4 linked regions of the Homo sapiens genome follow. The protein of the gene in region 1 purifies or fractionates together with the protein of each later gene. This does not show direct contact. Each region holds a gene or a part of one and is shown in the gene's direction. Other genes may lie near its edges.

Region 1 (7,020 bases):
TGCAGGAGGCTCCCCTTTCTCCTGCCTTTGATCTCCCTGTGGTAGTGTTCACCGTCCCCACCCAGGGTTACTGCCTCAGCCCCTGGCCCTGGCTCACCCAGTTCCCTGAGCACCCAGGCCACCAGGCTAGTGATGCTCTGCTGGGAGCTGTTTGTTTGTTCACTGGCAGAGAAAGTTGTTTCCTATTGTCTGCTGTTTGACCAGTGTGACCTCAGAGTTCTTCTTCACTTCATAAACCTCTGGGAGGGGCCGCCTTCAAACAGAACAATGGGCCTCTTCAGGAGCAACCGGGAAGCCCCAGCAGCCCCATGGCTGGAGGTGGCTGGCTGTGTGTTTAGCAGGGCTCTCTGTTCCTCGTGGCCTAGATGCATCACTGTAAGCGATACCGCTCCCCTGAACCAGACCCGTACCTGAGCTACCGATGGAAGAGGAGGAGGTCCTACAGTCGGGAACATGAAGGGAGACTGCGATACCCGTCCCGAAGGGAGCCTCCCCCACGAAGATCTCGGTCCAGAAGGTGAGAGGGAACTAGATAGGAGGGAAAGACTCCTTCTGTCAGCTGGGCTCAGCTGTGGCAGCTCCAGACTCCTTGAGATGACTCCATCCCTGCCCAGCTGTCCCTGGATCCCTGCCCTGTCCTCTTTGGGCTCCTCCACTAACCTCACCTGCATGCCTTGGCCTCAGCAGTAGCTACCATCCTTGCCGCCCACTCTTTCTCTGTCTTGGAGTGCCTTTTCTTCTCCCCACACATTCCCCCATTTTCTAGGCCAGCATCTTTCCGCTTAACCTCCTAAGCCTTCCTTGGTGAGGATTAGGAACATAACCTCACCCCTGGAAAGTTTGCTCCCTGGGCCTATCTTAGCTCCCAGGTCAAACTTAGAGTTGCAGCAGGCCACAGGGAACTCTGGAAGGGTATAGAACCCTTGGAGGCACTCTACCATACTCCCCTTCCCCTGTACCCCTCCTCCTACAGCTGGAGGATGCTGTCGTTGGACAGGGCTCTGGAGGGCGGGCTTAGTACCTTTGCACCCTCCCCTCTCTGCCCACTTCCCACCAGTGTGGATGCTTTTAGCACAGGCTGTCCCCCTTTAGCCCTTTACAGTGGCCTTACCACAGGTCTCTTGCTTGCTAACAGCAAGGACCCAGCTGACCAGCGTCCCCATCCCCCTTTTGGCAGCCATGACCGCCTGCCCTACCAGAGGAGGTACCGGGAGCGCCGTGACAGCGATACATACCGGTGTGAAGAGCGGAGCCCATCCTTTGGAGAGGACTACTATGGACCTTCACGTTCTCGTCATCGTCGGCGATCGCGGGAGAGGGGGCCATACCGGACCCGCAAGCATGCCCACCACTGCCACAAACGCCGCACCAGGTCTTGTAGCAGCGCCTCCTCGGTGAGTGGTAGCCAGAGTGTGCTGGCTGGGGCTTAAAGGCCTCATCTCTTCCTAGCCTTCTCTCAGGCTGGCTGGTCCGGGTGAGTACTGCCAGCCCTGTGCACGTGCACTGGTGTGCGTGCATGTGTGTGTGTATGTGTTGTCTGGTCCAGGTGTAGGGCTGATCACAGGGTCCTGGCCTCTGTGTCTTCTGGCTCTTTCCAGTGGCAACTGTAGGAACTCTGGCTCCGATGCTGGCTGGCCCCTGGCCTGTCTATGTCTACACAGTGCTCCAGACAAAGGCCACGTGGTGCAAGTGGCTGGGGACACTTCTTAGGACACTTCTTAGGGATCCTAGTAGAGTGGCTGGTATGGTGGTCTGCAGCTATATGGCCTGGTCCTTCCCACCCAGAGACTGCCTCCTCGTGTAACTGAGTGCTCTGATGTGGACTGCACCCACCTCTGCGTCTCATCTGCACACCCCTTCCCAAAGGCCCCCAGTCTGGAGTGCCTCACAGGACCGGAGGATTTGCCTGTCAGCCAGCTCAGACTGGGAACTTCCCTTCTGATCTCCAGCCAGGCCCTCTCCAGCCGAGCCTCTTTACGAGGGGCAGTCGCGGTGAGGAGGGGCAGGTGCCTGTGTGATGGGGCATGTGAAGAAATGGCAGAAAGGCTGCCGCCCCAGGCCTCGTCCAGTTGCAGGCCACATGCCCAGAGCAGGGCCTGGCCAGTATTCCTAGCATGGAGGGTTGTAAGGTCTCTGGAGCCCACATTGCGCTCAGTCCCCTGGGGAAGCAAAGCCAGTTGTGTATTTCCGAGGTTACGTGCGGTCTTCTCTTCTCCCCCATCCCTCTTCCCTGCCTCCCTCCTGCCGGCCTTGAGGCCCCTGAGGAGCAGTGGAGAGGCCAGGTGTCTTCTCTGCCCAGCGCTTTCTGTGACTTCTTTGAGTGGCTACAGGTTGAGGGTTGACTGTGCGGGCGATTGCAGCGTGGCCCTTTCACCTCTTTGCACACTGCCACATGCTGCCACAGGATGGCAGTGCAGGTCTGGCTCTGTTTCTCTGTTTGGTGCCCTCTATCGATCGTCGTGAGGCTTGGGATGGGCCTAGATTGTGAGCAGCATGGGTGCCAAGGCCAGGGCAGGAGCTGGCATGGGGCCTGTGTGGGCCATTGTGGTAGGAAGCCTGGCAGTCGACTGGCCCAGAGGATCCCAGGCTGCTTTCCTTCTTGAGGCTGGTGGCAGGAGGGCTGCTGACGGAAGGCTGTTTCTGGTAGTGATGGTGAAATCTGGCCAAGGATGCCGTCTGGAGGCAGGTAGCAGCTTGGCTGTGAGTGGCAGCTGTCAGGCATGTGCAAGTCTGCGTGGGCGAACAGAGGCAGGCAAGGACAGGCTGGGCATTCTGCAGCTGAAGCCGGAGCAGCCGCTGACCAGTCTGGATGGTTGGACCCAGGCGGGGCCAGCTGCCTTCTTGCGCCGCCGTTCTCACTGCATCTTCCGCTCTGGCCCAAAGCCACATGGGAGGGTCTGGGAGGGAGAGACTCGGAGGAGGAGGAGGAGGGAGTCGGGGCGATGGCTCTCCTCACAGCGTGGCCCTCAGCAGCAGAGGCAGGTCATCTTCCTGAGCGTTTGTGGCGCTCCTCTTAAAGATAATGTCCGAGTTTTCTTTACATACCTGTAGCTGTTTTTACTTTTCTGTTTTTGAAGTCAGTTTGTGTCTTGACGTGTCCCTTGCAATATCCCTATCGTTATATATGCTGTGTGCCTTATGAAATGCTGGGATCTGGAAAATCCAACCAACCAACCCACCGGCTCCTCACCGTCTCCACCTCTGCCTTTGACTGACACCTCAATCTGTCAATCGGAACCGCCTACCATGCGATTGGTCGGATGGCGTTTCGGGGGGCGGTGCATGCAGAGAAGCCAACAGAGCAGTAAGCGCAGCAGCCGGAGTGTGGAAGATGACAAGGAGGGTCACCTGGTGTGCCGGATCGGCGATTGGCTCCAAGAGCGATGTACAGCCACCTTTCGTAAAACTTTACCTCTCTACTTTCTACCCCCCTTGTTAGACGAGACCTCTCCTGCCTGGAGGGGCCTCTAGTGCGCGTGGTGCCTTAGCGGGGCCACCAGTAATTGCCTGAATGACACAGACACTAGCAACTTCCATTTTTAAGAGTGTAGCAGTGAGAGAGAAACCTTTTTTGTTTTTGAGAATTTGAATGCTGTGAACTTGCAGGAGCTGCCAACCCCCTGCCCTCCAGATTCTCATGCCCAATTTCTTTTCTCTCCTAGATGAGATTGTGGGGAACCTGGGTGAAGGCACCTTTGGCAAGGTGGTGGAGTGCTTGGACCATGCCAGGTGAGCGAGCTGCGGCAGTACAGCTGGCTCCGGATGTGATCTTCCTGGGAAGAGCTGGCCTGAGGTTCTTGAGGGTGGCAGCTATCAGAGCTTAACTTTTTTCTTTTTGAAGGGTGGCATCAAAGTAGGGTTCCGACCTGTCCATGTTGGGGTTTTGCTGACCCCCTGTAATAAGGGAGAAATTCTTGGGTCCTGCAGTTATGTGGCATCCCTACCCAAGAATTGTTGGTCAGTGAAAGGTTCTGCTCCAATCTCTTCACTTCTCCAGGGCTGTGGTGGTGGATATCAGAACAGGGCCAAGGCCCCGGCTCCCCTGTGGCTTGGAGCTGCTTCCTGTGATAACTTTTAGGTTCTTGGCTTAGCAAGGGGCTAGGAGTACCAATAAGCCCAGCCCAAGCATAAGTCCCATTCCCTGAGGGTCTGCCTGAGAGGCTGTGCAGATCTCAGTCGAGAGAAACATGACCCTGGGCTTTCTCACCAAGCAGGCTGCTGCCTTCTTCAGTGTGACTAGGGTAGTGTGTGGTCTCCGCTGAGTGTGCCTGGGAGAGTGGGGTATACCTGTGTGTGTCATGCTGCACCTCACTCTCTCCCAAGCCCAACAGTACAATAGTTTTTTCCCCTTACCATTCCACAAGACTAGAACATTTGCTTCCTCTCCTATAGGTCTGGGTTGGGGAGGCCACCTCCAGGGAGCCAGTTGCCACCCTGCCATAGGCTCTCTAGTTGGTTTGGCACTTCAGCTACAAAGTGCTTGTGTCCTCATTGGAGCCACATGCCACCCATATGTGGCCCTCTCGCTATTTCAGAGATGAATAAACATGCTCAGGGTTTGCCTGCATCATACTCCAGTTAACAGCAGAGCTGGCCACCACTGCGCTGTAGTGCTCCTACATTAAATGGGGTGTTCAGGTCATTCAGACCCAGGCGTCCAGCCTTTCCTGTGGCCACGAGATAGACTGAGAGGAAGTGTCCATTTGCTCCAAGTTCCTATGTAAATGCCTGTACGACTCAGCGTGGCCCAAGAGGTTAGGGTTGGGACCAGTGGGTGGAGGGACATGCACAACCACACCGTGGCCAGGTGGAGACATGGCAGACTCAACAGCCGGGATGCATGTAGGCATTCTGGGCTGCTCCTCTCTCAGGAGCTGGAGGGAAAATGAGCCTCTGGAGTCACTAGGGGGCAGGTGGAGGGTCCAGGGAAACTTTACGGGACTCAAAGGGAGCCAGGGCCAGTGGGGGTTGTCATGCAGAGGCAGAATTCAGCTCAGCGAAAGGCAGGGTCTTATTCTAAGAGCAGTGCAACTCTGACAGGGGCTGCCTTGGAAGTGATGAGCTCCCTGTGCTGAGGACTGGAATGCCACGGAGGGACCCTGTTTTAGGAGGAGGCCGGAGTGCATGGCCTTTCCCCTGAGGTCCCTTCCTGCCCTGAGAATCTGGGAAAATAGGTAGGGAGAAAAAAGCAGGGGATTCTCTAGAAGGTCCCTTTATCCTGGGCCTGTGAGCCTTAGGCACCACAGTCAGCCTCCCTGAGGCCTCAGAGGACACGCCCTTCCAGGCTAGGACTGTCTCGTTCCCCACTGGGCATCTGAATTCTAGCTGTCCTTTCCTGACAGGGCCTGGCAGTTGAGCCTCAGCAGGTTTCCTTCTCTGCTGGCTCCCTGCAGATGGCCTCCTGGGGTGAGGTTGGGGGTGGGAGGCACAGAGCAGGGACTGTTAAAACCTTCTTTGGACACTTAAGAAGGGTTCCTGGCATTTTGTGGTCACTGATAAACACTGTGGCAGGTAGGTGCGGCTGGAGAGGGGTGTGGTAAAGGGAGTGGCCCTGGGCCTCACAGTGAGAGGTACCCTTGCTGGTACCCCTACCTCTTGCCAGATCTTTACTCGATCCTGGAACCCCCATCCCTGTTTGCTCAGACTTGCAGACAAGCTCAGGAAGGTCAAGAGGCGCCGCAGGAGGGTTCTCGGTGGGACAGCCTGGCCAGGGTTGGGGCTGCCTGGCCTATAGGTTAGGTCACTGTGTGAGCTCTTGGACTGGCACTGGTTAAGCAGGATTGGCCTCTACTCTCCCACACTCCTTTGGGAGCTGGCAGTGGCTGAGAACATAAAAGCCTAAGGATGGCAAGGATGCTAAGAGCATTAACTCACAGATCTCAGGGAGCTTGCTGTTGGGTGGGCAAAGGTCTGGTGTTGCATGGGGCAGGCTGGGCATCCAGTATCTGCTCTCTTCAGTGCCGGCTGCTCCTGGAGTGGTGTTTGTTGGGAGTTGCTGGGTTGGGGTGGAGGGTTGGGGAAGGACTGGGCAGCTGCTGATGAGAACCTCTGTTTCCTTCCCGGGTACCAGAGGGAAGTCTCAGGTTGCCCTGAAGATCATCCGCAACGTGGGCAAGTACCGGGAGGCTGCCCGGCTAGAAATCAACGTGCTCAAAAAAATCAAGGAGAAGGACAAAGAAAACAAGTTGTGAGTATCTGCAAGGAGTGGGAGGGAAGCCTTCAGTGGGGCTGCTGGACCCCCAGGGGCTTAGTAGTGTGCCTTCACCCATCCGCACTGTGCCTTCTCCCCACACTCAGAACCAGGGGAGTGTGGCAAAGGTCTTGCTGGAAGCCTTTAGACTGCAGTCCAGTCTTCACCCCAGCTGTCTCTGTGTCCTGAGGAAGGCCTCCCAGCCCTGCGTTTTGTGAATTGGGGAGCTCACTGGGTTATGCTGGGCATAAAACAAGATAAAAACATGAAGTTGGGGCTCTCACATAGTAGGAGATACCCAAAGGAGGGCCTTTCTGTGGCAGACACACTGAGCACTCTCCTCCACGCACTGTGCTGAGCCTGGGCAGATGGGTGAATCCAGCACAGACCCTCACGAAGCTCAGCAGAGTGAGCAAGTGGAGAAAAGCAGCACCAGTCCTGCGGAGTGCACTAGCACTTTCCATCTCTCCCTCAGCAACTCTGAGGCAGGGCTGCTTCCATATCATAAGTAGGGAAGCTCGGAGGGCTTGGACCAGAACCGTGGACATCTCCCCTACCCCCCGCAGGAAGCTTAGTCCTTGCCCAGAGCTCATCTGGGTATTGGGTGATGGCTGGTGGGGAGAGGTGCTCTTGCTCTGATTTCTCTTGCACTGTGTGTATCTGCATTCTGGTGTGTGACCCGGTGGCCTAGGAGAGAGTTGGGAACTGTCTTCATCTGAGAGAGGGGGTGAGGCAGGCCCCCAGCACACAGCCTGAGCCCTGCCCATCCTCCTCCTCCAGCCTGTGTGTCTTGATGTCTGACTGGTTCAACTTCCACGGTCACATGTGCA
Region 2 (7,569 bases), on another chromosome or scaffold:
CACCTGAGGTTGGGAGTTTTCAACCAGCCTAGCCAATATGGTGAAACCCCATCTCTACTAAGAATACAAAAAATTCGCTGGGTGTGGTGGCGCGTGCCTGTAATCCCAGCTACTCGGGAGACTGAGGCAGGAGAATCACTTGAATCCGGGAGGCAGAGGTTGCAGTTAGCCAAGATCGAGCCACTGCATTCTAGCCTGGGCGTGACAGAGTGAGACTCTGTCTCAATTAAAGAAAGAAAGAAAGAAAGGAAGGAAGGAAGGAAGGAAGGAAGGAAGGAAGGAAGGAAGGAAAAAGAGTTCATGTCCTTTGCAGGGACATAGATGAAGCTGGAAACCATCATTCTCAGCAAACTAACACAAGAACAGAAAACCAAACACCGCATGTTCTCACTCATAGGTGGGAGCTGAACAATGAGAATACATGGACACCAGGAGGGGAACATCACACACTGGGGCCTGTTGGGGGGTGGGGGGCTAGGGGAGGTATAACATTAGGAGAAATACCTAATGTAGATGACAGGTTGATGGGTGCAGCAAACCACCATGGCACGTGTATACCTGTGTAACAAACCTGCACGTTCTGTACATGTATCCCAGAACTTAAAGTATAATAAATAAATTAATTAGTTAAAAAAAGGAGAAAGAAAAAAGAAATGCAGGTTCCAGGTTTAAATCTCTGCTCAGCCACTCAGTCCCCATGGCCACTTTTCTGTGATGTGTATTAGTGGGATTATGTTTGGGTTTGAGTGTGTGTGTGCTGAATTCAGCTTCTGCAGGAAGTCTTTCTAAACACCCAGCCACACCCTCTATTTCTATCAGTATCCTAATAACAATGTGTCATTATATCTTTTTGATCATGTTATTTCATTTCAGTTTCCTCCACTAAATGTCAGCTCCACTGGGGCAGGGAGTTTTGTTCTGTTAATTGCTGTGTCCCTGGCACCTGGTACATAGTAGGTGCTGAATAAATATTGAATAGATGAAAGCAGTGCTGTGTCTATATGCTATGTGGGGAAGAGTGGGCACTGGCTGGACACCATGAGTTCCTGGGCACACAGTGCTCAGTTCTGGTCTCTGTCCACAGCTGTTCACAACCCTTGCTTTAACCACCTTCTTTTTTTTTTTTTTTTTTTTTTTTGGTGAGGCAGAGTCTCACTCTGTCTCCCAGGCTGAAGTGCAGTGACGTGATCATGGCTCACTACAGCCTCGACCTCCTGGGCTCAAGTGATCCTCCCACCTCAGCCTCCCAATTATCGGGATTACAGATGTGAGCCATCGTGCTGGGCCCATCTTCAATTTTGTAGAAATGTTGACATTCTGGGATTCACTGTCTCCTGTATCAAATTCAAGGGAGTGGGGTGGATTGGTTTATGCTAAGCCTTCTTCCTAATCTACAGTTCTAGAATCTAGTCTTAAACTAATCCCCTCTTTAATTCATTTAAGATTTTCTTTTTTTTGAGTTTTGCTCTTGTCACCCAGGCTGGAGTGCAATGGCACTATCTCAGCTCACTGCAACCTCTGCCTCCCGGGTTCAAGCCATTCTCCTGCCTCAGCATCCTGAATAGCTGGGACTACAGGCGTGTGCCACCATGCCCAGCTAAGGATTTATTTTTTGTTTTTATTTTTTTTTAGAGATGGGTGTCGCTGGGATCCTCCAGCCAGCCTCCCGAGTAGCTGGGACTACAGGCTCACACCAGGGTGCCACGCTCATTCAACATTTATTGAGCACCTACTGTGTGCCAGGCACTGTTCTAGACCTGATCCTGCCCTCATGAGCTCAGACCCAAGGAGGAAGGCAGGCAGGATCCAGAAGTCTTACTTAATCTGTTTTTTGTTTTTTGTTTTTTTTTCTGACAGAGTCTTGCTCTGTCACCCAAACTGGAGTGCAGTGGTGTGATCTTGGCTCACTGCAACCACCGCCTCCCGGGTTTAAGCAATTCTTCTGCCTCAGCCTCCCGGGTAGCTGGGATTACAGGCGCCTGCCACCACGCCCGACTAATTTTTGTATTTTTAGTAGACATGGGGTTTCACCATGTTGGCCAGGCTGGTCTCGAACTCCTGACCTCAAGTGATCCGCCTGCCTCGGCCTCCCAAAGTGCTAGGATTACAGGCGTGAGCCACTGTGCCCAGCTTCTCCTTTAATCTTGAGTGCCTTTCCCTAGTCTCTCTCTGTCCGAGGACAGAATTTTAGTCTTCACAGTCTGAAATCACCCGCGGGGATTTGTATGTTTATACAGGGATCCTGCTCCCTCACTAGCCAGGAGCAGGGACCCCTACTGGGTTTGTTGGTTGCTGCTGCCCCAAAGCCTGGTCACAGTGCCCAGTACATCGTAAGTAGACACTTGGGAAAGAGATGTGAAATGAGCTAATAAATAAAATGATGGCGCAAAAGCAGGCTCCGCGAGCACGATTTCGCGGAATCCTAGGTGTGTGTCATTACCCACTTTGCAGAGGAGGAAATTGAGACTCAGGAAGGCAAAGCCGCCTGCCGGGCCCCACCGCAGCTCAGTGGTATGTGGCTATGGGATGTAGCAGAAGAAGCAAAGGTAGCCCCAAAAAGCGTTCCCAATTCCCGCAAACCTCCCCCCCACACACACACACAGGCAGGAGAGACATAGCAGGGTTTGCACCGATGGGGGTGGGATGGGGACCGGGGACAGAGGGACAGTGCAAAGCAACTTAGGGGTCTCTCTCCTCAGTCCCCAGGGCTGGAGGTGCTGTGCTGGCAGATTAGGAAATGCTTGGGGTTGATGGGGAAGCTTCCGGCGCTCTATCCCCAGTTCTGGAAGCTGAGGCTCCGGGAACCCTGTTTTGCTGAAGCTGGGCAGCTCCAGTCTCCAGAGCCAGGAAGAGACCCCCGCGCCTATCCGGGAATCCCCGACATCTGGGATTCTCTCCAAACACCCCCAGGCTGATGACGGGGCCGAATCCCTAAAGGGCATACGGTGGGGGTGGGGGTACGACTTTCCTGGGGAGCCGGGGAACCCCCTACCTTCCTGGCCCCCTCCCACTGTGGCACCGTGTCCCCCTCCCCACCGCAGCTCGCAGCCCCAAGCTTACCTTGCGGGGGGCCTGGGGAGGGGATGCCCCGCCCTCCCTGGCCTGGGGGGCGGGAGGGGACGGGGGTGTCCAGACCCTTTGTTTGCTGGTGTGTGTGTGTATGTGTGTGTGCGATTGTGAGAGCCGCCGGGGTGTGGGTCCGTGCGCGCGCGTGCCCGGGCCGTGACGGCCACTGATGTGCTGGACTGCCAGGGTGGAGGGGAAGAGGGAGGGGTAGGAGATGGGGACTCCCCCGCCCCTGCCCGCCCACTCGCGGGTTTGAATGAAGCGCGAGGGGGAAGGGCGGCAGCGGGAGGACGTTTTTGTCCGATGGCCCTTCCCGCTCCATGCACCGGGGAATCCTCCCCCTTCTGGAGAACTTCGCTCGCTCTCTCCAGGCACTGCCTCCAACGTCGGCTCCAGGGGAGACTAGGAAGAGGCGCCCCTCACCGGAGTGGCTGGAGCTCCTCCTATCCAGCCTGACCCCCGAGGGAGCACCCTTTAATCTGAGATAATCCTGGCCCAAGGCTGCAACACGGCCTATTATCCTGGTATCAAAGCGTGGATTGGGATGCATGGAAGTGTGAGGTGGTCGAGGCCCTGCATGCTTAGAGTAATGGAGTCCTTAGAGCCCCGGCGGAGGAAGCGTACCCCAAGACGAACGGGGAGGGGCTATGCGTGGCCCCAGACTGTGACGACAAGGAAAGCCCCCTTCCACCCCTCCACGATTCCCCCCACCAAGCGCGGGGCCAGGAATACGCGCCGTGGGCTAGACTCTAGCGACACCCAGCGGCCAGCGGGGTGGGGAGCCGAGACCCGTTTTGAGGGGGTCCGGGTGATTCCAAAGTGTGTGTGTGTGTGTGTGTGCGTGTGTGTGTGTGTGTGTGTGTGTGTGCGCGCGCGCGCTCGCGCGAGTCCTCGCTGCGAATGGCAGGAGGTGGAAGACAAGGAGAAGGCTGTTGCCGAGGCGGGGAAACCCCAGCTCCCAAGGCAGGGCCACAGTCTCCCCTCCACGTTTAACCCTGCAAGGGGAGGGCCATACCACCCCCGATTTAGACACCCCCAGGGCAGGTCCAGTCCTCCTCGGGCTGAGAAAGTCCGAGGAGTCATCAGGCGCCCCTCTCCAGCGCAGGCTTAGGTCCCCGTTTACGAAGGGCAGGGGGAGGGCCTTCCCGCCGTGTCCCTACCCCTTGCAGACGTCACTGCGGCGTGGCTGAGGGGACAGTCCTCTCAGTCTCATCAACCGTCCCCTCCCTGCCACCCCAAACGCCCACCGTGGAGCGGCGGGAGATGAGGGGGGCTCGGAGTTGAAGCGCGCACTCATATGCCCCCAGGAGACCTAGCGGAGCCCCAGCGCCCGATGACGCGGAGTCTCTGCGGGAACTCCAGGGGGCCGGAACACTTACGCAGGGCCCTTTAAGGCTGGCTGGGTAGCTAGTGCCGCTGCCGCGGTTACTAGGGATGTGACGTCACACAGGGCGGGGTTTCCCGCGCTCGGCGGAAGCGGAAGGGGCGGGGCTCCGCGCTCCTAGTCTCCACTGCTGCCGCCGTCGCCGCCACCCGAGCCGGAGCGGGCTGGGCCGCCAAGGCAAGATGGTGGACTACAGCGTGTGGGACCACATTGAGGTGTCTGATGATGAAGACGAGACGCACCCCAACATCGACACGGCCAGTCTCTTCCGCTGGCGGCATCAGGTAAGGCGCGCGCGCCCATCCCTTTCCCCACTCCCGGACCCCGCTTCGGAGTTGTGATCCCCGATACTGCCCAGGGACCCCGCTGTTCACACCTAGGATTCTCACCCCCCCAGTCTGGATTTTCAGGAGCTTCGATTCAACTCCGGGACCCCAGTACCATTGGGACCCTGAGTCCCTGCCCTGGATCTCCGCTCCCCCACTCCCTGCTCCGATTTTTGCGTGGGATTCCCTATTCACCCCCTAGAACTTCTTCATAGTCTGGAGTCCCCTAGACGAGTCTTGGGGGTTCTCCCTAATTCTGTTCGGCAGTTAACATTTATACCCAGAACTCTGCCTCAAAGTTTGGACCCCAAATTCTTCTAGATGATCCCTCATCCTATTCGGGTATTCACTTCCTATCTGGGATCTCCCATCGCCCCCCCACCTCCGTAGTCTGGACCCCCAATACTTTGGTCTGTCCCGGGATCTACTTTCCGGGATCTTGATCCGGGGTTCCCATTCAGATCCGGAGTCGCCACTCCTTTTCTAAACGGAACAAGGAACTCTGTGCTACTCTGATATTCCTGTCCCTGCCCACACCCAGGACCCCCTTCCTAGAGTGTAGAACCGTCCCCCTTCAGGATCCTTAGTCTCACCGAGTACTTGGGTTTTGGAATCTGGTTCCCCTCTGGATCTAACTACCAGCTCCAACCCGATAGAGCCTCACATTCCAGCCTCTCCTTTGGCCTCCGGTAGACCCATTTCCCATTATACCAGGAAATCCTGCCCACGTGGCTTCCGGCCTAGCCAGAGCCCCTGCTCCTACTTGGTATTGCAGACCCTGTCACCACCCACTTCCCAGACTGGCTTCCTGTATGAGCCTCAGCCAGCATTGGAAACTCTCCCCTAACTCAAGCCCAGAACCCCAAACCCACCCCACCTTTTGTCCCCAGCCTGTTAGCTACTCTGTGACCCAAATTGTCCCTGCTCTTATCCAGGGACTCTCCTGGTCTGATTCTAAATTCACCACCCCTTCTTCTATCTGACCACAACAGAGGTCCCGAATCCAGACCCCAGAATCCCAAGCCTGGGTGATCCATGTCCCACCACCCTCTCAGTGCTCACGAGCCAATGGGATGACTAAGACTTAAAGGTTTAACCTCCTGCTACCCCAAATGAGTGTGCCTGCATTACATACCAGTGTCTGTTGTATTCCTTTTTTTTTTTTTTTTTTTTTTTTTGAGACGAAGTTTCCTTCTTGTCGCCCAGGCTGGAGTGCAGTGGCACAATCTTGGCTCACTGCAACCTCTGCCTCCCGGGTTCAAGTGATTCTCCTGCCTCAGCCTCCTGAGTAGCTGGGATTACAGGCATGATGCACCACCATGCCTGGCTAATTTTGTATTTTTGGTAGAGACAGGGTTTCTCCATGTTGGTCAGGCTGGTCTTGAACTTCCGACCTCAGTTGATCCACCCACCTCGGCCTCCCAAAGTGCTGGGATTACAGGCGTGAGCCACCGCACCCAGCCATGTTGTGCTCTTAAACGAAGGGCATATACCTCTCAGAACCTTCTAGTGAGGATCTCTTACCCCACCCTCCCATAGGGCAATTCCCCATCATTTATCCAGAAACAACTAGAAGGTCCCTTTCCCATCCTTCCAGAATACTCTGGAATACGGCATTAGTCTCTTCATCTAGCTCCCAGTCCCACTTCCAGACCTATTCCTTAAATCCTGAGTCTCCTGGGTAGTGTACCTGCCAAGCAAGCCACTGGAGTGTGGGAAGAAAGTTCTAGCGCTTCTATTTCTTGCCGTGTGTAACATTTTATTATGAAATATTTAAGACTTCCTCAAAGCTCCAAAGACTATTCTTGGGAAGACCTATTTCTGTCACATAAAGAGGTTAATCTTTACTACTGTGGAGAATGGTTTGGTCCTGCCGGGTGGGAGGGCCCCCCTCCTGCAGCGTAGTGTACCTGCCACACCCTCCTCCCTCTGGCACAGAGCTTTTCCTGTCCTGCCGCTGAGAACCCCGGTGGTTGTAGTGGCATGTAAGGGAGGCAGGGGGCTTCAGCGTCTCCAGCACAGGTTCAAGGACAGGCAAGCTTGGGTTCCAATCCTAGCCCCACCTCTTGCTGCTTCTTTCTTTCTTTGATGTGGCAAGACTCACAAGAAGCCTCCCTGAGCCCATGTGAAACCTGGGATAATATGGCCCCACCTCCCTGAGACCTTTGTAAGAATGAATTAAGACTGGGTCAGGAAAACTTGGGGCAGGTTTGGAAGGAAGCATTGTGGAGGGGAAGGAGAGATTGCTGTCGTTCAGAGCACAGGCCTGACTAGGTTCAAATCTCAGCTCTGTCTGTATCACTCACGTGCTGCGTGACTGCCAGGGAGCTGTTTGATCGCTCTGTGCCTCAGTTTCCCTACCTGAGAATCTGAATGATGTCCACCCCATAAGGTTGTTGTAAGGCTTACCTTATTCATTTAATATTTGTAATCCTTTTGGGGCAGTGGCTATTATCATCATCATCATTTAAATAATTTCTGTTCATGGTTAAAAAAAAAAAAATCTGTAGCCACATGTGGTGGCACATGCCTATAGTCCTAGCTACTCAGGAGACTGAGGCAGAAGGATCATTTGAGCCCAGAAGTTCAAGTCCAGCCTGAGCAACATAGCAAGACCTTGTCTCTCTCTTTTTTTTTTCGAGACAGGGCCTTGCTTTGTCACCCTGAGATGGCAGTGGCGCCATCTCAGCTCACTGCAACTTCCACCTTCCGGGCTCAAGTGATCCTCCTACTTCTGCCTCCTGAGTAGCTGGGACCACAGGTACACACCACCATGCCTGGTTGATTTTTGTA
Region 3 (7,767 bases), on another chromosome or scaffold:
ATGACATACTCTTGTTTCCTTTCGCTCATCATGAGATTCACCCACCTTGTGTAGTTTTAGTTCATACATTCTCAATACTTTGTAGTATTCCATTGTGTGACTATATTAAAATATAGATATCTCTCTTGCTGTTAAGAGGCATCTGGGTAGTTTCCAGTTTGGTCTATTGTGAATAGTGTTGCTATGAACATTCTTGTTCATGTCTTTTGGTGAATATATTTATGCATTTCTCTTGGGTGGGTCCCTAGAGTTGAGGTTTCTGGGATCTCTCTCTCTCTCTTTCTCTTTCTCTCTCTCTCTTTAGGTATATTCAGCTTGAGTAGATGCTACCATCTCTGTGGCTGACATATTAGCAGATTATTTTGAGCTGGCCTGGTGTGCACCTGTAATCCCAGCTCCTCAGGAGGCTGAGGCGGGAGGATCACTTGAGCCAGGAGTTCGAGACCAACTTGGACAACATAGCAAGACCCTGTCTCAGTCAGTCAATCAATCAATGATAAATTTTGGTGCTGAGTGAAGAACAGAATGTGACAGTTGGTGGGGGGTGGCAAGAGTGGAAATGGAGAGACCAGATAGGAGCCTATTGTAATAGTCCTAGCAAAGGATGACAGTGGCTTTGGCCAGGGTAACAAGAGATGGAGGAAAGCACACTCATACAGGATGCATTATACAGGGAAAGCTGACAGGACCTGCTGATGGGTTGAATGTGGAGAGACGAGGAAAAGAGAGGAATCAAGGTTGACTGTTAGGTTTTTGGTTTGAACAACTAGGTGGACAGTTATGTCAATTACTGAGATGGAGAAGAATAGGAAAATAACAGGTGTGTGGGAGAATCAAGAATTCTGGTTTGGCCATGTTAAGTTTGATATGCTCATTAGGTTTCCAAGTAGAAACATCAAATAGATGGTTAGAACTCAGTGAAGATGTCAGATGGGAGATACGAATCTGGGGCCCTCAAATCAGCATACAGATTTTTTTTTTTTTTTTTTTTTTTGAGATGGAGTTTCGCTCTTGTTGCCCAGGCTGGAGTGCAATGGCGCGATCTCGGCTCACCGCAACCTCCACCTCCCCAGTTCAAGTGATTCTCCTGCCTCAGCCTCCCGAGTAGCTGGGATTACAGGCATGTACCACCACGCCCAGCTAATTTTGTATTTTTAGTAGAGACGGGGTTTCTCCATGTTCAGGCTAGTCTCGAACTCCCAACCTCAGGTGATCTGCCTGCCTTGGCCTCTCAAAGTGCTGGGATTACAGGCATTAGCCCCCGTGCGTGTCTGGCCGAATACAGATGATACTTAAAGCTATGAACATGCATAGATCCTCTTTTTTTTTTTTTTTTTTTTGAGACGGAGTCTCGCTCTGTCGCCCAGGCTGGAGTGCAGTGGCGCGATCTCAGCTCACTGCAAGCTCTGCCTCCCAGGTTCACGCCATTCTCCTGCCTCAGCCTCCTGAGTAGCTGGGACTACAGGCGCCCGCCACCACGCCCGGCTAATTTTTTGTATTTTTGGTAGAGACGGGGTTTCACCGTGTTAGCCAGGATGGTCTCTATCTCCTGACCTCGTGATCCACCCGCCTCGGCCTCCCAAAGTGCTGGGATTACAGGCGTGAGCCACCGCGCCTGGCCGAACATGCATAGATCCTCTTAGGGAGAAAGTGTAAGCAGAGAATAAAGGACCTAAGTCTCCTGAAGCATGCCACCATTAAGAAGTGGAGCAGAGGAGGAAGAGCCAGCAAAGGAAATGGGGAATCACTGTTGAGGCTGGAGAAAGATCAGAACAGGTTGCTGTGTGTATTTTAAGAAGGGGAGTGGCTAATATATTGAGTACTACTGAGAGATTCAAATAAGATGAGAGGTGACCACTGGTGTCAACATGGTAGTCATTGGTAACCTAACAAAAATTATATCAGTGAGAAAGTGGGGTTGAGAAGTCTGATTAGAGTGGATTGGAGTAAATGGGGCATGAGGAAGTAGAGTAAGAGACAATAAATAATTCAAGAAGTCTTGCCAGGAAGGAGAGCACAGAAAGGGAGTAACAGCTACAGAGGAATCTGGATTCGGGGGGGAGTTTTCTCAAGATAGGGGATATTGGTTATGTCTGGAAATGACCCAGCAGAGGATGTGATGTAGGAAAAAGAGGGGCTAATCATGGGCACAGACATGGGATTGAGAAAGTCAAAGGGGATGGAATCCAAAGCACAAAAGGAAGAGATAGGAACAGGTTTGTTTCCTTCAATGAAAGAGGAAAGGCAGAAAGTATTTTGCAGATTGGCAGATTTGGTGGTGAGATGATGAGGTAGTTCTCATCTGCTTCTGTTTTCTCAATAAAGAATGAGCCCAGGCCATAAGTTGGAGGTGGGAGAGAAGGAATACTGGAGGTTCAGGGAGATGAGAAAGTATGATAGTCATTGGGAGGGTGGGAGAGCAAACTTGTCAGGAGCATGTAGTAGGAGCTCAGGCAGTGTTGTGCACTCATTTGAGATTTTGGGACATGAATTTAAAATTAGACCAGTCATCAGTGATCACATGTGACTTGTAAGCACCCAGAAATGAATAGTTATTGTTAAGTGTAGTGGTACTCTCCAGTTGTTCACTGAATAAACAAATGAATGGAGTATTATATTAAACACTTGGATGGGGAGGAGGAAGGGAAATAAAGAGAATGTGTATCTGTCTTATAACCTACTTGAAGGAGACAAAACATAATTATTTGAGAACAAAGCATATTTTAACAGGCACAAACATATTAGCTTTTCCAGTTGATGTTATAAATTCTGACTGGAATAAGAATAGTGGCATACTTAAAATAGAATGGAGTAAATGTGGGAAATAATTCCTGAAGTTTCAAATCGGATCTCAAAAGTTCCCAGGGAAATGTGTTAACAGAAAACATGTAAAAGGGGGAAAACTGATAGAGCATGATGTTATATGTGGCCTTCTATAAGCTGAAAAGGACTTTGAGCTTGAAAGCAGGAATGGAAATAATTACTGTAATTTAAGGAGTAACCTCTTCATGCTAAGCATTAACAGATCACTTACTTACCTGACAGTGGCTACTATTTATTTTGTGTCTAAGCACTGTGCTAATTGTTTTACATATATTATTTCTAATATTCACAACACTACAAAATTACATACTATTATTTATTACTAATTATTAAAATTCCATCTTACAGATGAGGGAATCGAGACTCAGCATTTCAATAATTTGCCCAAGATTCCAGTTAGTAAGGAGCTGAGGTGGGATTTGAAGCCCAGGTCTCTGATCCCAAAGGCCATAGTCAGTCTTCTGTGCTTTACTCCATTTAATTGTGTATTCCCCTCATTTTCCTAGCACTTAGTAGAGAGGCCAGCCTAGGATAAATGTTCAACAGCAAGAGCGACCCCAAAATACAAATCTGATGACCTCCTTTTGCACTTAATCTAGATTGTTTACTAACAACCCTCCTCACCCTCAGCTCACTAGTCTTTGTCTTCAAGACAATCTCTTTCCTTCCCTAGAGCATTTGCCTGAGCTGCCCTTATACCTCTCAAGGCTCTTCTCACTCTTTCCATGCTAACCTCTTTATATCCTTTAGATCACAGCTTGCCTGTTCAGAGGCCTTCCTTGGCCATTCGATCTAAAATAGATCTCTCGTATTTTCTATGTCATCCACTTTTTCCCTAACATTTATCAAATTTTGCAGTTACCTTGTCAGTTTACTTTCTGGTGTTTTTCCAATATTATGCCCCATGGGACCAGCGACCTTGAATCTTGTTTGCCTTTGATTTCCCAGAGCTGTGCTCTTCAATACAGAAGCCAGCAGCCACATGTGGCTACTGAGCACTGTACTACAAATGTGGTGTTGCCTTATTGAGATGTGCAGTTAAGTGTAAAATACGCACTGGATTTTGAAGACTTGGTATGAGAAAAGAATGCATAAGATCTCGATTTTTAAATGTTGATTACATGTTGAAATACTTGTATAAACTGGGTTAAATGTATGACTAAAATTTTCACTTGTTTTACTTTTTAATTGTGGCTACTAGAAGATTTCAACCTACATATGTGACTCACATATTTCTAGAATCTGACACAGTGCCCTGCCCCATTTTATTGAATGATATATCCAATGTCGAGAGAGAGAGATCGAATGAATGGGTGCATGAAGAGGTATAGTCTCATGCTTCCACTAGGCAAATAGATACAGCACTGCCGTAGAAGTTAGGAGATCTGGGTTCTGGCTCAGGATGTACTGGAAACGCCTTGGACAAGCCCTACCCTACTCTGGGGATCAATTTGCCAATTAGGTAGTTGATCTTTGAGGTCTGGAAGCTTACGAGAATCAGTTGGCAGGGAAATGTACCAGGAAAGCTTGGTACAACGGCGCTTGTCTTTTTCGCTCTAGCCTAAACACTTGAGCCTCGGCAAACGGGCAGAGGCAGCGGGAATCAGGGACTACACCCCCGAACCCAGTACCCGGGTCCCCGACTTCCCCGAGCCTACGTCACTGGGGCGCGACGGCGTTGTCCCCGGGAGTGCAGCGGCTGAGAAGGTCCCTTCGGTGAAGGCGAGTTCCGGGACAACAGAGAGGGCCGCACCGTTTCCGAGTCTCTCGGAGGCTCAGTTCTCAGCGCACCATTCCCCACAGCTCTCCTTTTTACTTTACCCCTACCCGACACTTGACCCCGGCAGTGTGAACCCCGCTGGGAGCGTCCAAAGCCATGCCTCATCGCGGCTGCGCAGCGCACGTGCACAGCCTCGCAGGAGTCTCGGCGATTGGCTGTGACGCAGTTTCCGGCGTGAGCGGCGAAAGCCGGGAGGGCGAGCGAGAGAGCAAGCAGGCAGCAGGCTGCCGGCGGGCGGGCGGACGGCACAGAGGGAGGGAGCGAGCGAGCAGTGAGTAAGCCAGCAAGGGCGGTCGGGTCCCGAGGTCAGCCGAGATTTCTCAGGTCCCTCCGGCCCCCTCCCTGGAGTCCACAGCGCCTCCGGTGTCCAGAGGATCGGACACGGCCCGGCCCGGCCATGGCCTCGTTGCTGAAGGTGGATCAGGAAGTGAAGCTCAAGGTAGCGGCACCGGTCCGGCCTTTTTGCCCCTCGCTTTGATCCCCCAGCAGTCTGACCGGCTTCCTACTCCCCATGGCGTCTTTGTCTCCCTGGGGATACCAGCTCTGAGCTTCCGCTCGGCTCAGCCCAGCCCCCAACTCCCGGGGTCGGCTTCGCGGGAGAGGAAAATATAGGATGGCTTTCTGTACCGCGTCTGATGATGGAGAGTCCCGGGGACACCTCCGCGGACACGTGTTGGACTCAGGGCTTTAGGCCCGTGACAGCTGGTAATCCCCCAGCCCAACAACGTCCCTGGACACTGCCCCTGCCCTTGGCGGCTGGCCTGCCTAGTATCATAGACTAGGTCTGGGTGGGGGTTGGCACGTTTGTGAGCTCACATCTTCCCTAACTACCTGTCTTTTGTCTGCTTATCAAATTCAGACAGCTTCAGACACAGGAGGAAGGGAGGGAAGGGGGAGGACAGAGGAGACAGGCAGGTGCTGTCCTCAAAGCCCTGCGTTCTTCTGAGATGGAAAAATGGATCCTCAAAAAAATAAAGTATTTGCAGTCTGGGGGCCTCTCAGCTTCTTATTACAGTTACAAGGTGAGGGAAAGACAGTTGGATTGGGATTCTCCATCCTGCTCTTACCTCTGTCCCCAGGTACTGAATTGCTCTCTTTGTTAATTTTAGGTTGATTCTTTCAGGGAGCGGATCACAAGTGAGGTGAGTGAAATAAATAGAAAAATGGTTGTTGGTTGAGAATTTCCCAAAGAGGAGATACCTGGAGAGAGAGAGAGAGAGAGAGAGAGAGAGAGACCTTCCCACAGATATTAATTCAGCTGTATTTTCCCTCTTCCTTAGGCAGAAGACTTGGTGGCAAATTTTTTCCCAAAGAAGTTATTAGAACTTGATAGTTTTCTGAAGGTGAGAGACCCTATTCTTTCCTCAAATTCCCCAATTTTTTTGGCCCTGGTATTACTGTCAACTGGGATAAACTGTTGATTCTTCTTCTTTTTATTTTTTTAAACTGTAAAAGCACTTTCATTTCTTGCTCTTCAAATCAAATACTTCTTTGTTCAGCTTGAAAAGATTAATGTTTTGGGGTGGGTGTCTTTCAGGAACCAATCTTAAACATCCATGACCTAACTCAGATCCACTCTGACATGAATCTCCCAGTCCCTGACCCCATTCTTCTCACCAATAGCCATGATGGACTGGATGGTGTAAGTGTCCTATATTTATCTTTGTGTTCTTGAGCAGTAGGTCCTCTGTCCTCTGTTTCCTTGTCAGTTTAAGATGTACAGAGGGAACAGTGGGATTTGGATCTGGGAACTAGGACTCTGTTACAGACATGATGACTCTAGTATAGTTCTTTTATTTCTTATTTATTTATTTATTTTTGAGAAAGGGTGTCACTTTTTTTGCCCAAGCTGGAGTGTAGTGGCGGGAATGCTGCTCACTGCAGCCTTGACCTCCCGAACTCAAGCGATCCTTCCTCCTCAGCCTCGCAGGTAGCTGGGACTACAGGAGTCCACCACCATGCCCACTGATTTTTGTATTTTTTGTAGAGATGGGGTTTCACCATGTTGCCCAGGCCGGTCTCAAACTCCTGAGCTCAAGTAATCCACCCGCCTCAGCGTCCCAAAGTGCTGGGATTACAGGCGTGAGTCACTGCACGGGGACTCCAGTATATTCCTTTTAGACCCTCAGTTTCATTTACGACGTGAAGTGAATGTGCTAATGCTACTGTCAGTGTTAGAGTGAGTTTCAAATAAAAGAGAACTAGCTTAGGCCAGGCACCTTGGCTCACGCCTGTAATCCCAGCACTTTGGGAGGCCGACGTGGACGGATCATGAGGTCAGGAGATCAAGACCATCCTGGCTAACACCGTGAAACCCTGTCTCTACTGAAAATACAAAAAATTAACTGGGTGTGGTTGTGGGCCCCTGTAGTCCCAGCTACTTCGGAGGCTGAGGCAGGAGAATGGCATGAACCCAGGAGGCGGAGCTTGCAGTGAGCTGAGATTGCGCCACTGTACTCCAGCCTGGGCGACAGAGCGAGACTCTGTCTCAAAAAAAAAAAAAGAGAACTAGCTTCATCAGGTTACCTGGTTTTTCCCATGGCTCTGAACAAGACTTTGCTTATATTTGTTTGCATGTCTTGAGTAGTGTTATGGGATATGCAGTTCTCGCTATGTAACTGCAATTGCTATCTTTGCTTTGCATCTCTAACACCTAGTCCTTATCAGTCATGTGTCCACATGCTACTATAACACTGATGATACCGTATTGTTGTCTGTAGTACTGCCTCATTGTTGAACTTGTACATCTGGAAGGCAGGAACTATCTTTTTTTTTTTTTTTTTTTCCTTGAGACAGAGTCTCACTCTGTTGCCTAGGCTGGGTGCAGTGGCGCGATCTCAGCTTACTGTAACCTCCGCCTCCCGGGTTCAAGTGATTCTCCCACCTCAGCCTCCCACGTAGCTGAGATTACAGGTGCACACCACCACGCCCAGCCAATTTTTTTATTTTTAGTGGAGACAGGGTTTCACCATGTTGTCCAGACTGGTCTCGAACTCCTGACCTCAGGTGATCCGCCCGCCTCAGCCTCCCAAAGTGCTGGGATTACAGCCATGAGCCATCGTGCTCGGCCGGCAGGAGCTATCTTAATCTTTGTATTCCCAGCACCTAGTGTTGATCCTGGTCCCTAGCAATTGCTGAATACATGTTTGTTAACTGAATAATGT
Region 4 (7,020 bases), on another chromosome or scaffold:
CTGGAAAATATCCAGCAGTAACACATCACGTTTAGGCAACTTCAGCATCTGGATTGACAGTTCAGCTAACACTTTGGCCTTCTGATTCCTTTACCTCTTCATTCTCTTTAGCCACCTGGTCACACAATCACACCCTGGATCTTGTCTTTACTAAAAAGCCACCACCCAGGCTGGGCGTGCAGTGGCTCACGCCTGTAATCCCAACACTTTGGGAGGCTGAGGCGGGCGGATCGCTTGAGGTCAGGGGTTTGAGACCAGCCTGGCCAACATGGTGAAAACCCGTTTCTACTAAAAATACAAAAATTAGCTGGGCGTGGTGGTGCGCACCTGTAGTCTCTGCTACTCAGGAGGCTGAGGCAGGAGAATCTCTTGAACCCAGGAGGTGGAGGTTGCAGTGAGCTGATATTGTGTCACTGCACTCCAGCCTGGGCGACAGAGCGCGACTCCATTTCAAAAAAAACAAAAAAGTTGCCAGCCAGGCCAGGCCCATTGGCTCTTGCCTGTAATCCCAGCACTTTGGGAGTCCAAGGTGGAGGATCCCTTGAGCCCAGGAGTTCAAGACCAGCCTGGGCAACATAGCGAGACCTCATTTCTACAAAAAAATAGGAAAATTAGTTGGGTGTGGTGACATTTGCCTATAGTCCCAGCTACTCAGGAGGATCCCTTGAGCCCAGGAGTTCAAGACTGAGTGAGCTATGATTTCGCTACTGCACTCTAGCCTGGGAAACAGCAAGATTGTACAAAAAAAAAAAAAAAGTCACCACACCTCCAAATCACTGATTCAGACATTCTGCTGTGATCATAACCCACTGTTTTCCAGTTTGCTGGCTCAAAAATATCAAATAATGTCACCTAGTTTTTTTTGAAATCTTTATGTAGTTTTACTAATATTTAAGTTTTATTTTTAAAACAAAATTTTGTGGAACCTTTTTTTTCCTGTTGGTAATCAAATACCTCTTTTTTTTTTTAACATTTTGTTTTCTGGGTATCCACAATAAGTCACCCTCAAATCTCAGTACTGTAAATATCCTCATTGTTCAGACTGGTGATTTGTTTTCTTTTTTGGCTAAAGGAAATATGTATCCCAAGAGCCCTCCATTTCCCTGCTCCAGTCTGGCCTGGTTCGCTAGGTCTGTTGGATAATTACTGTCATGGGATTCCATAAACACTGTCCTAGGGAATTCCCTTTGCCTCTTTGTTGTGCTGGATCCACTGATTCTTGGATTCCATGATGTTTTCTTGGGTTACTCTTCCATTTAATGGATCATCGAGAAGGGAACCTTCATCCTTTCTCTCATTGCTTTTCTGTTGGTCTGTTTTTCTTGGGCTGCTTTTACCTTGAGTTCTCTAGTCAGCCTGGGGGTTATAAGCTAGACTGCCAGTGTTCTAAAGCCAGTTCAGGGAATGAAGCCAGGGGATGGATCTCACAACTAAGTATGTAGGTTTTAATTTAATCTCTTGTTTTTCAGCATGATACTCCTGTCTTTAGCTGAGTCTGTTGTCTAAGAGTCCAGAGACCACCTACTTCAATCTTTCCACAGTAAACCTTGAGTCTTCTGTTATGGTGGGAGAGTAGTAGCCTGGTTGCTCAGAGTCAGAGAGGAAATTTAGGAGTCTACTGCTTCTTACACAGATTTTGACCCTTTTATTTATTTAAACTTTTTTCTTTTTTTGTTTTAAGGCTGCATTACTAGCCGATTCCCCCCCCACCCTTTTTTTTTTTTTTTTTTTTGAGACAGAGTCTCGCTGTCTCCCAGGCTGGAGTGCAGTGGCGCCATCTCAGCTCACTGCAAGCTCCGCCTCCCGGGTTCACGCCATTCTCCTGCCTCAGCCTCCAGAGTAGCTGGGACTACAGGTGCTTGCCACCATGCCCAGCTAATTTTTTGTATTTTTTAGTAGAGACAAGGTTTCACCATGTTAGCCAGGATGGTCTCGGTCTCCTGACCTTGTGATCTGCCCACCTTGGCCTCCCAAAGTGCTGGGATTACAGGCATGAGTGACTGCGCCCAGCCCACCCCACCTCACCCTTTTTAAAAAAAGAAAAAAAAGAAAAGAAAAGTTGGGGTCTCGCTATATTGCCCAGGTTGGACCCGAACTCTTGGTCTCAGGCAATCCTCTCTCCTCAGTCTCCTGAGTAGCTGAAATTACAGGTGCACACCACCACATCCAGCTCCACTCCTTTATTTTTTGTTCCGCCTGTGCATCTGCCTTCAGATGTACCTGTGCTTCCAATTCCCCAGTCTTCCTGGGTTTTGCAACATGAATAGTTTGTCCCTTGCCTTCCCTATTCTCGTCTCATCCTCCCTCCCCACCCCCAGGCAAATATCAGCCTTTTCGGATCTGCTAAGACAGTTAACACTGTCCTTTAGCTTTCCAGTTTCCACAGTTCTATTGATATCTGTCACCTGTTTCCATTTTCTTTGTCTTTATGTGTTTTTGCCTTTTTTAAAAAAGATCTTTACTCTGATTTTTATTGGATTTTTGGAAGGACCTGAAAGCAGACAGCTGTGTTCAATCAGTTAGTTTAGTCATTTTAAACAGAAGTCCCTGCATTAGTTCTTGAATTTTATCAAAACCTCAGTTCATTGACTGTTCCTTACTTCTTCTTTATTAGGTCTTCTTGTTTTTACTTCTCTCCTTACCAAATGTGGATTCCAAGATCTATCATTCTAGTCATTTTATAAATACACCATCACCTTTCCCCTCCAATTTGGTCAGACTTCAGCATGGTTGTATGCAGCTGCTTCTCCTCTTGTCAGATCTAGGTGCTTTGCATCTCTCAATCTTCTGAAATTTCTGGGACCTTGATCTTTTGGTTTATCCTATGTCTTGTCTGCATCTTTAGACTCCTTTACTGAGTCTTTCCCATCAGCATCCAAATAGCTGAAATATTTCTCATAGTACACAAATATTTTGGGGTAGAGTGGATGCCGCCTTTGCCCAACTTTACTTTCTTCTCTGCTTTTACCCTTTCCCAACCCTTTCTTCAAATGCAGAAACTAACTCATCTTTTGAAAGCCCAACCTAAATTCTGCTTTCTCCTTCAAGGCTTACCTGCTTCTCTTCAGCCAAAAGTGATTTCAGCCCCCAATGAATGCCTAGAGAACTTTACTTCATTGTGTTTGCCTTTTTATAAACCTTTTTGAAAATAAGTGTTTTGCCTCCCCTACTAGACTGGGATTCTTGTCACATTTGTTTATGTAGTCCAATACCCATAGTTGAAGAAATAAACCATGGTTATTAAGATAAACAATCAAGACACTTCACACACAGGTTCTTAAAAATGTTGATTGTCAGAAGTGCATACATGCAGATACTCAGTTGGATAACTCACATTTTTCTTTATCTGCGAGTTTTATTTATTTTTGCTGTCACTTTTCACCATATACATGGTTAAAAATAAACAATATTCAGCACCTTTAATGCTCTTCAGTCTTTCCAGTCTTTTTTTTTCTTTCTTTTTTTTTTTTAAATCCTTTATGAGATGTATATGTTGCCCTCATTTCATACTTGCAAATATTCAGGTACAGAAAGGGAGAGGAACTTTTTGACTCAATAAGGCTCTCTTTGTTTATTTATTTTTTGAGACAGAGTCTCACTCTGTTGCCCAGGCCGGAGTGCAGTGGCACCATCTTGGCTCACTGCAACCTCCGCCTCCTGGGTTCAAGCAATTCTCTTGCCTCAGCCTCCCAAGTAGCTGGGACTACAGGCACATGCCACCATGCCCGGCTAATTTTTGTATTTTTAGTAGAGATTGGGGTTTTGCCATGTTGGCCAGGTTTGTCTCAAACTCCTGGCCTTAAGTGATCTGGCCGCCTTGGCCTCCCAAAGTGCTGGGATTAGAGGTGTGAGCCACTGCACCTGGTCTATTTATTTAGTTTTTTGAGACAGGGTCTCACTCTGTTACCCAGGCTGTGGAGCGCAGAGGTGTGATTACTGCTCACTGCAGCCTTGCTCACCTGAGCCTGGGTTCAGGTGATCTTCCCACCTCAGCCTCTTGGACAGCTGGGACTACAGGCATGCACCACCATACCTGGCTAATGTTTTGTATTTTTTGTAGAGTCAGGGTCTTGCCATGTTGCCCAGGCTGGTCTCAAGCCCCTGGGCTCAAGCACTTCTCTCACCTCAGACTCCCAAAGTGCTAGGATTACAGACATGAGTCACTGTGCCTGGCCAAGGCTCTCTTTAAGTGGTCACTAAATGGCATTTGTAACCAAAAGTAATGTGTGTGGTGGTTTTTTTCTTTCCGGAAGATTTTGTCTACTGGAACAAAAGCGTGTTTTAACTGTAGTAATAACTATAGTGTTTTAACATCCATTTGAAATTGGTAAGGCATAGAATTTGTGTGGTTTGCTAAAAAACTACTTTCAAGAATATGTATTTGTGAAACTATTATCCTTATTCTTCTCTACCACCCCACCTAACTAATCCGAGAGTAATTGAGTATAGTTCGAATGACCTGGTGACAGTAGACGTGGTATAGAGGTATAATTTGAATATGCTTTAGCCTGTACTGTGAGTTAGCATCTTTTCTCTTTCTCTAATATTTGTATAAAACAGCCATTTTCTGAAGAATCTGTATTCATTGCTCTAAACTTCCACCAAAATTTTTGGAGATGTACAGCCATGGTTGTTTTATGTGATAGATAGATATCACTGATAACTTCAAAGTGTTCTGAAAGAGAGTATTTTGAGGCAGATCTTAAAGGAATCTTAGTAGCCTGTCCTGTATATTTAGTAGTTTCATTTGTCCACCCCTACTAACCAAAATTAGTAGAAGTTGTAGAGAGCTATTGAAGGAAAGACCATCTCTTCATAGGGCCAATTACTTAAGCGACTCAGTTATAAGTTTTTAATTTAAGTTGTAAGTAGGAGATAACTTTTACAGAGACAATCTTTGGGTTAGATATTACCTCAAAAGTTTTATAGTTCAGTATGGAAACTGAATAGGCATGCTTCAGCATGGGTGTATGCAGCTTTTTGATGGAAAGCATCAAAAGCACAAAGCAGATGAAGTAAAGTCATGCTTTGATAGACTAAGTTGGCATTGTCATGTTTGGTTTATCACATGTCCATAGGAATTTTCTTCTTAGATATCATATCAGAAAGGTCTTGGGTTGATATGGTTTGGCTATGTCCCCACCCACATCTCACCTTGTAATAATACCCCCCGATTTGTGGCAAGGTGGGGCCAGGTAGAGGTAATTGAATCATGATGGGGGGTTCCCTCATACTGTTCTTGTGGTAGTGAATAAGTCTCACAAGTTCTGATGGTTTTATAAATGTGAGTTCCCCTCCACAAGCTCTCTCTTGCCTGCCGCCATGTAAGACGTCGCTTTGCTCTTCCTTCGTCTTCCGCCATAATTGTGAAGCCTCCCCAGCTATGTGAAACTGAGTCAGTTAAACCCCTTTCCTTTATAAATTACCCAGGCTTGGGTATGTCTTTATTAGCAGTGTGAGAACACATTAATACATGGGTCATGGAATATCAGCTTCAAACTTCTTTGCTAGTACTTTTCCTTTTTGGAATTTATTGATTCTTTAGCCTGGTTATAAAACCTAGGGTTTTTGGCTTTTCTCTGGTCATTACTGATTTATCTTGAAAGTTTAGGCATTTTTTGTGTGTGCTTATGCTTGCACCTTCCAGTCAAAACATGCTTTTGAAAGGAAAGCCTTCTAGAAAATAGAAAATATTCCTATACAACTTCAGTAGATGAGTTCAGTCTAGGAATACTCTGTGCCTTGCACTGATAGAAACTGGGAGTATGTAAATAATGAAAACCAAAGATCTTTCTCCCAGAGAGTGTACCAATGTAGCTGTGTCATCCAGTGTAGTAGCCACCAGTCTAGTGTGACTATTTAAACTTAAAATTAAGTAAAAGTTAAAATCAGTTTCTTTTTTTTTTTTTTTTTTTTTTGAGACGGAGTCTCACTCTGTCACTCAGGCTGGAGTGCAGTGGTGCAATCTTGGCTCACTGCAACCTCCACCTCCCGGGTTCAAGCAATTCTGCCTCAGGCTCCCGAGTAACTGGGATTACAGGTGCATGCCACCATGCCTGGCTAATTTTTTGTATTGTTAGTGGAGATGGGGTTTCACTGTGTTAGCCAGAATGGTCTCAATCTCCTGATCTCGTGATCCACCCACCTCAGCCTCCCAGAGTGCTGGGATTACAGGCATGAGCCACTGCGCCCGGCCTAAAATCAGTTTCTTATTTGCACTTACCCACATTCCAAGTACTGTACGGTACAAATATAGAACATTTCATGTCTTTGAAGTATTGGAGTCTATGTTTGTGATTTTGTGACAGTATTTCTGTTGCCATGGTAGTCTGTTATGTGGTGGCATTTCTCCATATTTTGATTAGTTTCTTGTCTTGCCAGGCCTTGGGCCAAAGTTGATAGTTTGATTTAGGATGTAAAATTATCAGGGTACTACTATATTTTCTAATTACAATAGTTTTTCCAAAGTTTTTCAGATATTTCTTCAGCATTCTTTTACAGTGATTGATTGCACTGATGTTTATGGAGGAAATGGAAAGTAGGTTTTATAGATTTTTTTTTTTTTGTGGCAAAACATTCAAAACATAAATTTAGCATTTTAACGTTTTTTTTTTTTCTGAGACAGGGTCTTGTTCTGTTGCCCAGGTTGGAGTGCAGTGGTGCGATCATAGCTCACTGCAGCCTTAAACTCCCAGGCTCAAGCTATCTTGCCTCCTCAGCCTCCCAAGTAGCTGGGATTACAGGCATGAGCTACCGTGCCCAGTCATTTTAACCATTTTTAAGTGTGCAGTTCAGTGGTATTACATACATTGACATTGTTGTGCAACCATCACCATCATCCATCTTCAAAACTTTTTCATCTTGTAAAACTAAATCTATGCCCACTAAACAAAATAGGTGCCCATTTGCTCCCCGCCCCAATCCCTGGCAACCACCATTCTACTTTCTGTCTCTATGAATGTGACTATTCTTGGTACCTCATGTAAGTGGAATCATACAGTATTTAGCCTTTTTGTGATG

The links.
Region 2: the proteins of CLK3 (region 1) and CDC37 purify together in Homo sapiens (affinity purification with mass spectrometry; 5 studies listed by BioGRID and IntAct, with this or other methods). This does not show direct contact.
Region 3: the proteins of CLK3 (region 1) and PSME3 purify together in Homo sapiens (affinity purification with mass spectrometry; 6 studies listed by BioGRID and IntAct, with this or other methods). This does not show direct contact.
Region 4: the proteins of CLK3 (region 1) and TNPO3 purify together in Homo sapiens (affinity purification with mass spectrometry; 5 studies listed by BioGRID and IntAct, with this or other methods). This does not show direct contact.

What each region holds. Positions count from the first base shown.
Region 1 is NC_000015.10:74,618,832-74,625,851, forward strand, and holds part of CLK3 (dual specificity protein kinase CLK3), read left to right. Parts: intron 1-365; coding exon 366-517; intron 518-1,177; coding exon 1,178-1,394; intron 1,395-3,288; coding exon 3,289-3,385; intron 3,386-3,662; coding exon 3,663-3,729; intron 3,730-6,070; coding exon 6,071-6,187; intron 6,188-6,970; coding exon 6,971-7,020. UniProt on the Homo sapiens protein: Dual specificity kinase acting on both serine/threonine and tyrosine-containing substrates. Phosphorylates serine- and arginine-rich (SR) proteins of the spliceosomal complex.
Region 2 is NC_000019.10:10,400,543-10,408,111, reverse strand, and holds the start of CDC37 (hsp90 co-chaperone Cdc37), read left to right. Parts: upstream 1-4,569; 5' UTR 4,570-4,632; coding exon 4,633-4,734; intron 4,735-7,569. UniProt on the Homo sapiens protein: Co-chaperone that binds to numerous kinases and promotes their interaction with the Hsp90 complex, resulting in stabilization and promotion of their activity. Inhibits HSP90AA1 ATPase activity.
Region 3 is NC_000017.11:42,828,632-42,836,398, forward strand, and holds the start of PSME3 (proteasome activator complex subunit 3), read left to right. Parts: upstream 1-4,765; 5' UTR 4,766-5,000; coding exon 5,001-5,042; exon of another isoform or gene 5,043-5,308; intron 5,309-5,462; exon of another isoform or gene 5,463-5,550; coding exon of another isoform or gene 5,551-5,625; intron 5,626-5,712; coding exon 5,713-5,745; intron 5,746-5,883; coding exon 5,884-5,946; intron 5,947-6,140; coding exon 6,141-6,245; intron 6,246-7,767. UniProt on the Homo sapiens protein: Subunit of the 11S REG-gamma (also called PA28-gamma) proteasome regulator, a doughnut-shaped homoheptamer which associates with the proteasome. 11S REG-gamma activates the trypsin-like catalytic subunit of the proteasome but inhibits the chymotrypsin-like and postglutamyl-preferring (PGPH) subunits.
Region 4 is NC_000007.14:129,045,094-129,052,113, reverse strand, and holds part of TNPO3 (transportin-3), read left to right. Parts: intron 1-7,020. UniProt on the Homo sapiens protein: Importin, which transports target proteins into the nucleus. Specifically mediates the nuclear import of splicing factor serine/arginine (SR) proteins, such as RBM4, SFRS1 and SFRS2, by recognizing phosphorylated SR domains.